Linked DNA regions of Homo sapiens. The main gene of each other region encodes a partner of the protein of the gene in region 2 in a complex. Each region holds a gene or a part of one and is shown on either strand. Other genes may lie near its edges. A codon is read from its position in the direction of its gene.

What was found.
Region 1: the proteins of GNAO1 (region 2) and HRH3 are in contact, whole or in part, in a cryo-EM structure (PDB 8YN7), measured with the Homo sapiens proteins. Residues at the interface, in NP_066268.1 of Homo sapiens: Ile28 (codon at 2,185), Ala31 (codon at 2,194), Lys32 (codon at 2,197), Asp33 (codon at 2,200), Val34 (codon at 2,203), Lys193, Asn194, Leu195, Asn312, Pro315, Asn316, Lys317, Glu318, Ile319, Tyr320, Phe336, Thr340, Asp341, Ile343, Ile344, Ala345, Asn347, Leu348, Arg349, Gly350, Cys351, Gly352, Leu353, Tyr354; in NP_009163.2 of Homo sapiens: Asn69, Asp131, Arg132, Ser135, Val136, Ala139, Val140 (codon at 1,146), Tyr142 (codon at 1,152), Arg143 (codon at 1,155), Ala144 (codon at 1,158), Gly147 (codon at 1,167), Ile221 (codon at 1,389), Ile225 (codon at 1,401), Arg228 (codon at 1,410), Arg232 (codon at 1,422), Thr345 (codon at 1,761), Phe348 (codon at 1,770), Arg349 (codon at 1,773), Arg352 (codon at 1,782), Val356 (codon at 1,794), Leu360 (codon at 1,806), Cys415 (codon at 1,971), His416 (codon at 1,974), His417 (codon at 1,977).

What each region holds. Positions count from the first base shown.
Region 1 is NC_000020.11:62,214,460-62,218,071, reverse strand, and holds the end of HRH3 (histamine H3 receptor), read left to right. Parts: intron 1-1,145; coding exon 1,146-2,066; 3' UTR 2,067-2,665; coding exon of another isoform or gene 2,666-2,693; 3' UTR 2,694-3,112; downstream 3,113-3,612. UniProt on the Homo sapiens protein: The H3 subclass of histamine receptors could mediate the histamine signals in CNS and peripheral nervous system. Signals through the inhibition of adenylate cyclase and displays high constitutive activity (spontaneous activity in the absence of agonist).
Region 2 is NC_000016.10:56,190,133-56,194,288, forward strand, and holds the start of GNAO1 (guanine nucleotide-binding protein G(o) subunit alpha), read left to right. Parts: upstream 1-1,356; 5' UTR 1,357-2,103; coding exon 2,104-2,221; intron 2,222-2,422; exon of another isoform or gene 2,423-2,441; coding exon 2,442-2,484; exon of another isoform or gene 2,485-4,156. UniProt on the Homo sapiens protein: Guanine nucleotide-binding proteins (G proteins) function as transducers downstream of G protein-coupled receptors (GPCRs) in numerous signaling cascades.

The DNA.
Region 1 (3,612 bases), on a different chromosome or scaffold from region 2:
GGGAGCGGCCACCTGAGTCAGGGACCCTGCCCCACCCAGGCTCCCGCATCGGGGCCATGCAGCCCAGGGAGCCGCTGCTGAAGTCACACCTTCCCCTTCTCATCTCCTTGGCAGCTCACGTCCCCAGGGCTTTATGAGGGCCTCTGCAGGACTGAGGGCAGGTTGTTTGGTTCTAGCCTAGAAAGGCTAAGAGACAGGGTGCAAAGAGCATGGCTTTGGGTTCCTCTTGAGCCCATCCCCCTGTGGTCTCTCCCTCCTTTCCTGGAGCCACCAGGCATGGGGCACAAGGAGAGCTGCCACGAAGGGTAAAGCGGCCGAGCAGAGAGCCTGGCATGGGGGTGCTCTGCCCACCTCTCATTAGCAATAGCTGTGAACATTGCTCCCACCGTCACCAAGGTAAACGCCATCAGGCTGGTGGGGGAGGGTGGCAGGGGCTCTCAGGTCCTCCTCCTCGAGCTGTCCTACCTGAGACCCCTCAGTGGGATCCCTTGGCCCTCCTGCCCCCTGCCCCCACCAGCTGGTTGCTCTCTGCCCTGAGGAGGGCCCTGCCCTCTCTCCCTCTTCTTCCCAAGAGGCCCTGATGTCGATCTGGGATGCTTTGTTCTGTGGCGGGGCGGGGGATGTCTCCCAGCAGTGGGCCAACTTGTGGCTTCACCCCTGCACCTCCAGCTCCCAGGGGTGCGAGCACCTGTGCAGGAGTGGGGCTGGACCTCCCACCCCAACCTCTGCAGATGGCTCGGGCCTTTGCAGGATCAGGATGCATCATGTCAGAAACAGCTGTGTGTGCACGTGGTCTGGGGCTGATGCTGAGTCTGGTCCCAAGGGTGCAGGGGCCAAGGACAGGACCCCCAGGGAGCTCACAGCTGGTAGGGGGTGGTAAACAGGCAGCCTAGCAGAGAGTGAGGGTTCAGGTTGGTCCCAGGGAGCTTCTGAGGCTCTCACTGAGTGTGGCAGGGCACCAGTCCGGGACCCCAGTGGGGAGGGTTAGAGGAAGGGAGGGGAAAGAGGGAGGGAGGGAGGACAGGAGGGGAAAGGAGGAGCATTGCTGCTGAGGGAAGGGCCCACATAGGGGCCCACAGGCTACGGGGGCGCACCCAGCCCAATATTCCTTCCGCCCCGCCCCTGACCAGCCTGCCCTTCTGCAGGTCTCATACCGGGCCCAGCAGGGTGACACGCGGCGGGCAGTGCGGAAGATGCTGCTGGTGTGGGTGCTGGCCTTCCTGCTGTACGGACCAGCCATCCTGAGCTGGGAGTACCTGTCCGGGGGCAGCTCCATCCCCGAGGGCCACTGCTATGCCGAGTTCTTCTACAACTGGTACTTCCTCATCACGGCTTCCACCCTGGAGTTCTTTACGCCCTTCCTCAGCGTCACCTTCTTTAACCTCAGCATCTACCTGAACATCCAGAGGCGCACCCGCCTCCGGCTGGATGGGGCTCGAGAGGCAGCCGGCCCCGAGCCCCCTCCCGAGGCCCAGCCCTCACCACCCCCACCGCCTGGCTGCTGGGGCTGCTGGCAGAAGGGGCACGGGGAGGCCATGCCGCTGCACAGGTATGGGGTGGGTGAGGCGGCCGTAGGCGCTGAGGCCGGGGAGGCGACCCTCGGGGGTGGCGGTGGGGGCGGCTCCGTGGCTTCACCCACCTCCAGCTCCGGCAGCTCCTCGAGGGGCACTGAGAGGCCGCGCTCACTCAAGAGGGGCTCCAAGCCGTCGGCGTCCTCGGCCTCGCTGGAGAAGCGCATGAAGATGGTGTCCCAGAGCTTCACCCAGCGCTTTCGGCTGTCTCGGGACAGGAAAGTGGCCAAGTCGCTGGCCGTCATCGTGAGCATCTTTGGGCTCTGCTGGGCCCCATACACGCTGCTGATGATCATCCGGGCCGCCTGCCATGGCCACTGCGTCCCTGACTACTGGTACGAAACCTCCTTCTGGCTCCTGTGGGCCAACTCGGCTGTCAACCCTGTCCTCTACCCTCTGTGCCACCACAGCTTCCGCCGGGCCTTCACCAAGCTGCTCTGCCCCCAGAAGCTCAAAATCCAGCCCCACAGCTCCCTGGAGCACTGCTGGAAGTGAGTGGCCCACCAGAGCCTCCCTCAGCCACGCCTCTCTCAGCCCAGGTCTCCTGGGCATCTGGCCCTGCTGCCCCCTACCCGGCTCGTTCCCCCAGGGGTGAGCCCCGCCGTGTCTGTGGCCCTCTCTTAATGCCACGGCAGCCACCCTGCCATGGAGGCGCCTTCCTGGGTTGGCCAGAGGGCCCCTCACTGGCTGGACTGGAGGCTGGGTGGCCGGCCCTGCCCCCCACATTCTGGCTCCACCGGGAGGGACAGTCTGGAGGTCCCAGACATGCTGCCCACCCCCTGCTGGTGCCCACCCTTCGCAGTTACTGGTTGGTGTTCTTCCCAAAGCAAGCACCTGGGTGTGCTCCAGGCTTCCTGCCCTAGCAGTTTGCCTCTGCACGTGCACACACCTGCACACCCCTGCACACACCTGCACACCGTCCCTCTCCCCGGACAAGCCCAGGACACTGCCTTTGCTGCCTTCTGTCTCTTGCATAAGCCTCAGGCCTGGCCCTTTCACCCCTCTTCCCACCAACTCTCTCTGCCCCCAAAAGTGTCAAGGGGCCCTAGGAACCTCGAAGCTGTTCTCTGCTTTTCCATTCTGGGTGTTTTCAGAAAGATGAAGAAGAAAACATGTCTGTGAACTTGATGTTCCTGGGATGTTTAATCAAGAGAGACAAAATTGCTGAGGAGCTCAGGGCTGGATTGGCAGGTGTGGGCTCCCACGCCCTCCTCCCTCCGCTAAGGCTTCCGGCTGAGCTGTGCCAGCTGCTTCTGCCCACCCCGCCTCTGGGCTCACACCAGCCCTGGTGGCCAAGCCTGCCCCGGCCACTCTGTTTGCTCACCCAGGACCTCTGGGGGTTGTTGGGAGGAGGGGGCCCGGCTGGGCCCGAGGGTCCCAAGGCGTGCAGGGGCGGTCCAGAGGAGGTGCCCGGGCAGGGGCCGCTTCGCCATGTGCTGTGCACCCGTGCCACGCGCTCTGCATGCTCCTCTGCCTGTGCCCGCTGCGCTGCCCTGCAAACCGTGAGGTCACAATAAAGTGTATTTTTTTATTGGTGCTGATTCCTGAGGACTTTGTGGGGTGCTCAGAGCCTTCGTGCTTTGAGGAGAGACTCCAGGGAGTCCAGAAACCACTGAGAAGCAGGCGTGAGGATGAGGGCTCTGTGTTTTCTTCTAAGTCGGGGGACTGCAGTGGGGATGAAAGACCAGCCTGCCACACCAGGGTTTAATCCCAAGAAGGGTTTCATGTGCCCTACCGCCAGACCCCTGCACTTCTCAAGACCTGGCTGGCGGGTGAGGAGATGCAGCCCACGCCCTGCACAGGAGGGGCCCGCTCTGGCCCTGAGAACACAGACATGCAGCCTTCCTGCCCCCAGGACAGGTGCCTCATCTTTCTTGGTCAGGAGCAGGGTTGCACCCCAGCAAAACTTGGGACCCAGGGAGGATCATGGCCATGCCCAGCGTGTGCAGGGTCTGGGTGGCAAAGGGACTGCAGTGACCAGAGGGGAGGGATTGGGCTAGCTGGCTGGAGCTAGGCTGGAGGGGCTGCTAGAAGGGATGAG
Region 2 (4,156 bases):
CCGTTTTCCACTGGCCGCTTGCCTCTCTTATCCCCATGCAACCTTGCCTATTGGCCCCTTTCCCTAGGAGAGCCCCTGGGGCTGTCTGATGGAACTGATTGTAAAACTATTTTGTGCAGTAAAAAAGTCGTTTCTTCAAAATCTGAGACCACCCAGAACATGCCCAATCTTTGGCAAATATCGACTGGTTTCCTCAGTATTTGACTAGCTGTACACCGAGTAACTGTCCCGGGTTTCTGGGTCTTTATCTGAGAAGAAATGAGGGGGAAATGTTTCAGAAGATGAAAAAAGGAAGAAAACCTCTCATCCAAAATCTGTTCAAAATTCATTTTGTGCGTTTCGAAGGGGGAGGACAGGAGAATTTAGTGCAAAGACGGCCTCCACCAAACGAAACCGTCCAACATTTGCAAAAGCTTTTAAAATAAACTGCTCAGGGATCAGGGGTTTGCTGGAAACTCCCGGTCGCTTGAAGCCCTGTCCCTCCACTCCGGGCACCCTGGCCTCCCCAGGGTGGGCACCCCTCCTGCACGGAGAGCGGCGGCTGGGATCTCGGAGCAGGGTCGGCTATGGCCCTGGAGGCAGCGGCTCACAGAGAAAAAGCTCTGGCTTTTCTCCGCCCGCTGCGTTCCTCTTCTTACAGCCTCGGGTGTCACATATTAGGTGCTCAATAAATGTGGACATAGGAAACGAAAAGTCCGAATCTGTCCTTACGCCCCCAAGGCGAATTCTGGGGCGCGCGGGTTTATTCCGACCCACTACCACATCGCGTTTCCTGAGGTAACCCGGCCTCGGCTCTGCGGCCCCAGCGGCTGGAGAGCCACGGAGAAGGCGGGCTACGGGCGACAAGATGGAGAGCCGGCCCGAGAGGGACAGAGGCCGCGCTGGCAGCGAGCTGGGGGGCCCACCTGACCGTCCTGCGGGCAGCCCGGCCCCGCGCTCCCATTGACAAGGAGGTCCGCGCCGCCGGCGCGTGGGGCGGGGGCGGAGGCGGGGTGGGGCGCCCCGGCGCGCGCCCGGCCCCACTCCCCGCCCCCGCCAGTCCCGCAAGCACCCACCCCGGGGGAGCCGCGGGCCGGGAGGGCGCTGGGGGGAGGGGCAGGCCGCTCCGCGAGCGCGTGTGCGCGCCGCCGCCGGCTGACGCGAACTCCGGCGCGCGCCTCCCCCGCCCCGCGCCCTCCCCGTCCCGGGGGCCCGGCGCGCGGCCCTGCTGACGTCAGCTGGCGGCCCGCGGAGCCGGGTGCGCAGAGCCGCTGGCGCACTCGCGCGCTGCGCTGGCCTCCTCCCCGCCCCGGGCCCAGGCGCGCGCGCGCTTGTTCGCTCTCCCATTTTTTTTTTCCCCTCCCTCCCTGCCTCTCTCTCTCTCCCTCTCCCTCGAGCTCCCGGCTGGCTGCGGCTCCCTGGCGCTCTCCCTCTCTCTCCGGTAGGCTCACCGAGCGATGCGAGCTCTGGGAGACAGCGACGCCGCCTCCCGCTAGAGACCTGCCCCTCGGCCCGGCCCCCTGCCCAACCCTGCCCAGCGCGCGGGGGTCGGCGAAGGCGCCGCGGACGCACCGACGGCTGAAGAGCGGCGATGCACATGCACTAGCAGCACCCCCTAACTCACTCCCTCCACATCCCGCGCCGCCGCCGCCGCCTCCTCCACCTCCTCCTCCGCCGCCGCCGCCTCCTCCTCCTCCGGCAGCCGCGGCAGCAGGACCCACCCTGCCCCCCACCCCACCCTCTGTCGGCTCCGGCTGCGGCTCCAGCCTCGACTATTATTTTATTTATTTTGGGTCGTGCACAAGCCTCAGTGCCTGCAGTCCGCGCCTCCTCGGCCCGCGGGCGCCTCCTCCCTTGGCTCCGGAGCCCCAGACCCCGGCCACCCTCGATTCGACAACCCCAGACCCCTGCCAGCTGCCGCGAGTCTCCGCTGCTGGAATCTTGTTAGCGGCTGTCTTTTTGGAGGGTTCTGGTTTCCCGACATTTTTGTTTCCAGCCCAGGAGAGGATATCGTGATTTTCCCCCCTTGAGCCCAGGCTCTGCTCTCTGGGGGGGTGGGGGGCGCTCCAAGCCGGGGAGCCGTGCCAGCCGAGTCGTGCGGGCTGTGGCAGGGAAGGGGCCACCATGGGATGTACTCTGAGCGCAGAGGAGAGAGCCGCCCTCGAGCGGAGCAAGGCGATTGAGAAAAACCTCAAAGAGGATGGCATCAGCGCCGCCAAAGACGTGAAATTACTCCTGCTCGGTAAGGACCGCCGCTGCTACCCCCATCCCCCGACCCCGGCCACTCCGCACCCCCTGCCACCAGCTCCCCCACCCCACTCGCGCCCGGGAGACCTGGTCCCCAAGTTGGCACCACCATGTGCCCAGGATCGCCCACCCCCTCGCATGCCTTAGTCCCCCCCTCCCCCTGTTCCCTTAAGCTGACACTCACCAGTTTTTCCCCACTGTCTGTGTCCCAACAGGGGCTGGAGAATCAGGAAAAAGCACCATTGTGAAGCAGATGAAGTAAGTCCCTGTGGCATTGGGATTCGTACTTTTATTAAGAATAATTTTTAAATCGTTTTTATTACATTGCTTACTCCACATTGCTCTCCAGGCCTGTTTTTTAATTCGTGCACACACACACACACACACACACACCCCTATATTTGACTCCCCTCCCCCACTCCCTACGTTGGTTCTGGGTCCTCCACCCTAACTCCTGGGTGGGTGTTTTTTGGGAGGGGGAAGGGGAGCGCCTGTAGTTGTATGAATGACAGTGTCCGCCATATTGATCAGAACATCACACTATTGGCATGATTATGATCATTACTCTTGCTTGTGGAATATTTTCTGTGTCTCACTGCCTCCATTTCTGTCTGTGTCTCTGTTTCATTCTGTCTCTATTTCTTTCTCCTCTTCCCTCCATACCTCCCTATCCCCCAAGGTCCGTAATCCCACTTCCCCCTGCTCTTTTCCTGGGGCAGTGATTTTGAACTTGGCTAACATGGAGGGGACCCAGCCCTAGACTGGGGTGGAGGATCAAGTGTCTGCTGTTCATGCGTTTGGTGCTGAATTGGAGGCTGTGGTTTCTACATCCCCTCGCACCCCCTCCCCCGCAAAAAAAGAGGGCCAGGGTTAGGGGAGGGGTCGTGTGCTAGGGGAAGGAGTGGGTTTCCAAACGTAGGTGACGGGCACAGTTTTATCCAAGGTAGAGGTGGAAGGGGGAGGGAAGCTGCCTGTGAGGCTGAATGTCCGCCCCTTGCTGCCCCCAGCTCCTCTCCTCCCCCACCCTCCCAGCATTGCTCTCCTGACACCCGCAGTTTTCGTTCGCTCCGTGGCCTTTATCAGTGTATTTATTTACACTCTGCATAGGCCGTGTTCCATGTAATCTACCCACAATGCGGATTTCAGGCCCCACTTGCCGCCGCCCCCTTCTGCCTTAGCTATCAGTTTCCCCTCCTAATTAACTGGGGGTGGATTTGAGTGATGGTTGAAAATTAAAACAAAATGGGATATTCCTTCCCTTCCACACTTTCTCAATAAGGAGCCTCGCCCCTCCTTTCCACTTGCAGGCTCGCTTCTTGCCCTATCCACTCGGCAGTTCCTGGTGATCCCACAGGCAGGTTTGCTTGGGGAGGGGGTGGCCGGCAGCGAAGGGGTGTGCGCCCTCCGGGCCTCCTGTTTCGGTTGGCCTGTCAGTTCGAGACGGAGGAGTTCGTTTAGACCGTTTAGCGAAGATTCCACGTCGCTTTGCTGTGACACCTTCGTGCACACACAGCTCCTAATTAGGGGTTGCTGTGCAGTAAACAAAAATGATTATTTTTCAACTTGACACAATAGCCGAAATAATTGCATCGCGTAGGGAAACAATGGAAAATAAAAACCCCTTTCGTGGGAAGGTGGGAGTGGGAGACGAAGCATGCTTGCGGTTTCAGAACCAAGATGCAAAAAATCTTGGATGTGTAACAGGCATGACAAGCGGGTTCTAGGCGGCGCCATGATGGTAGGGAGTAGCGACTCGGAGACAATTTTCCCATCTGCTTGACATGTTCTTATTTTTATTCGAGAGCTCCCTGGGGCTTTCTTCGCAGAGCCCCCCTTGGCTCGCCGCACCCTTCTGAGCCAGGGGTAATTTAGCTTGGGGCTTCTCTTGAGCTTGTGCAACCCAAATTGATGGGGAGGCGGGGCCTGGGGA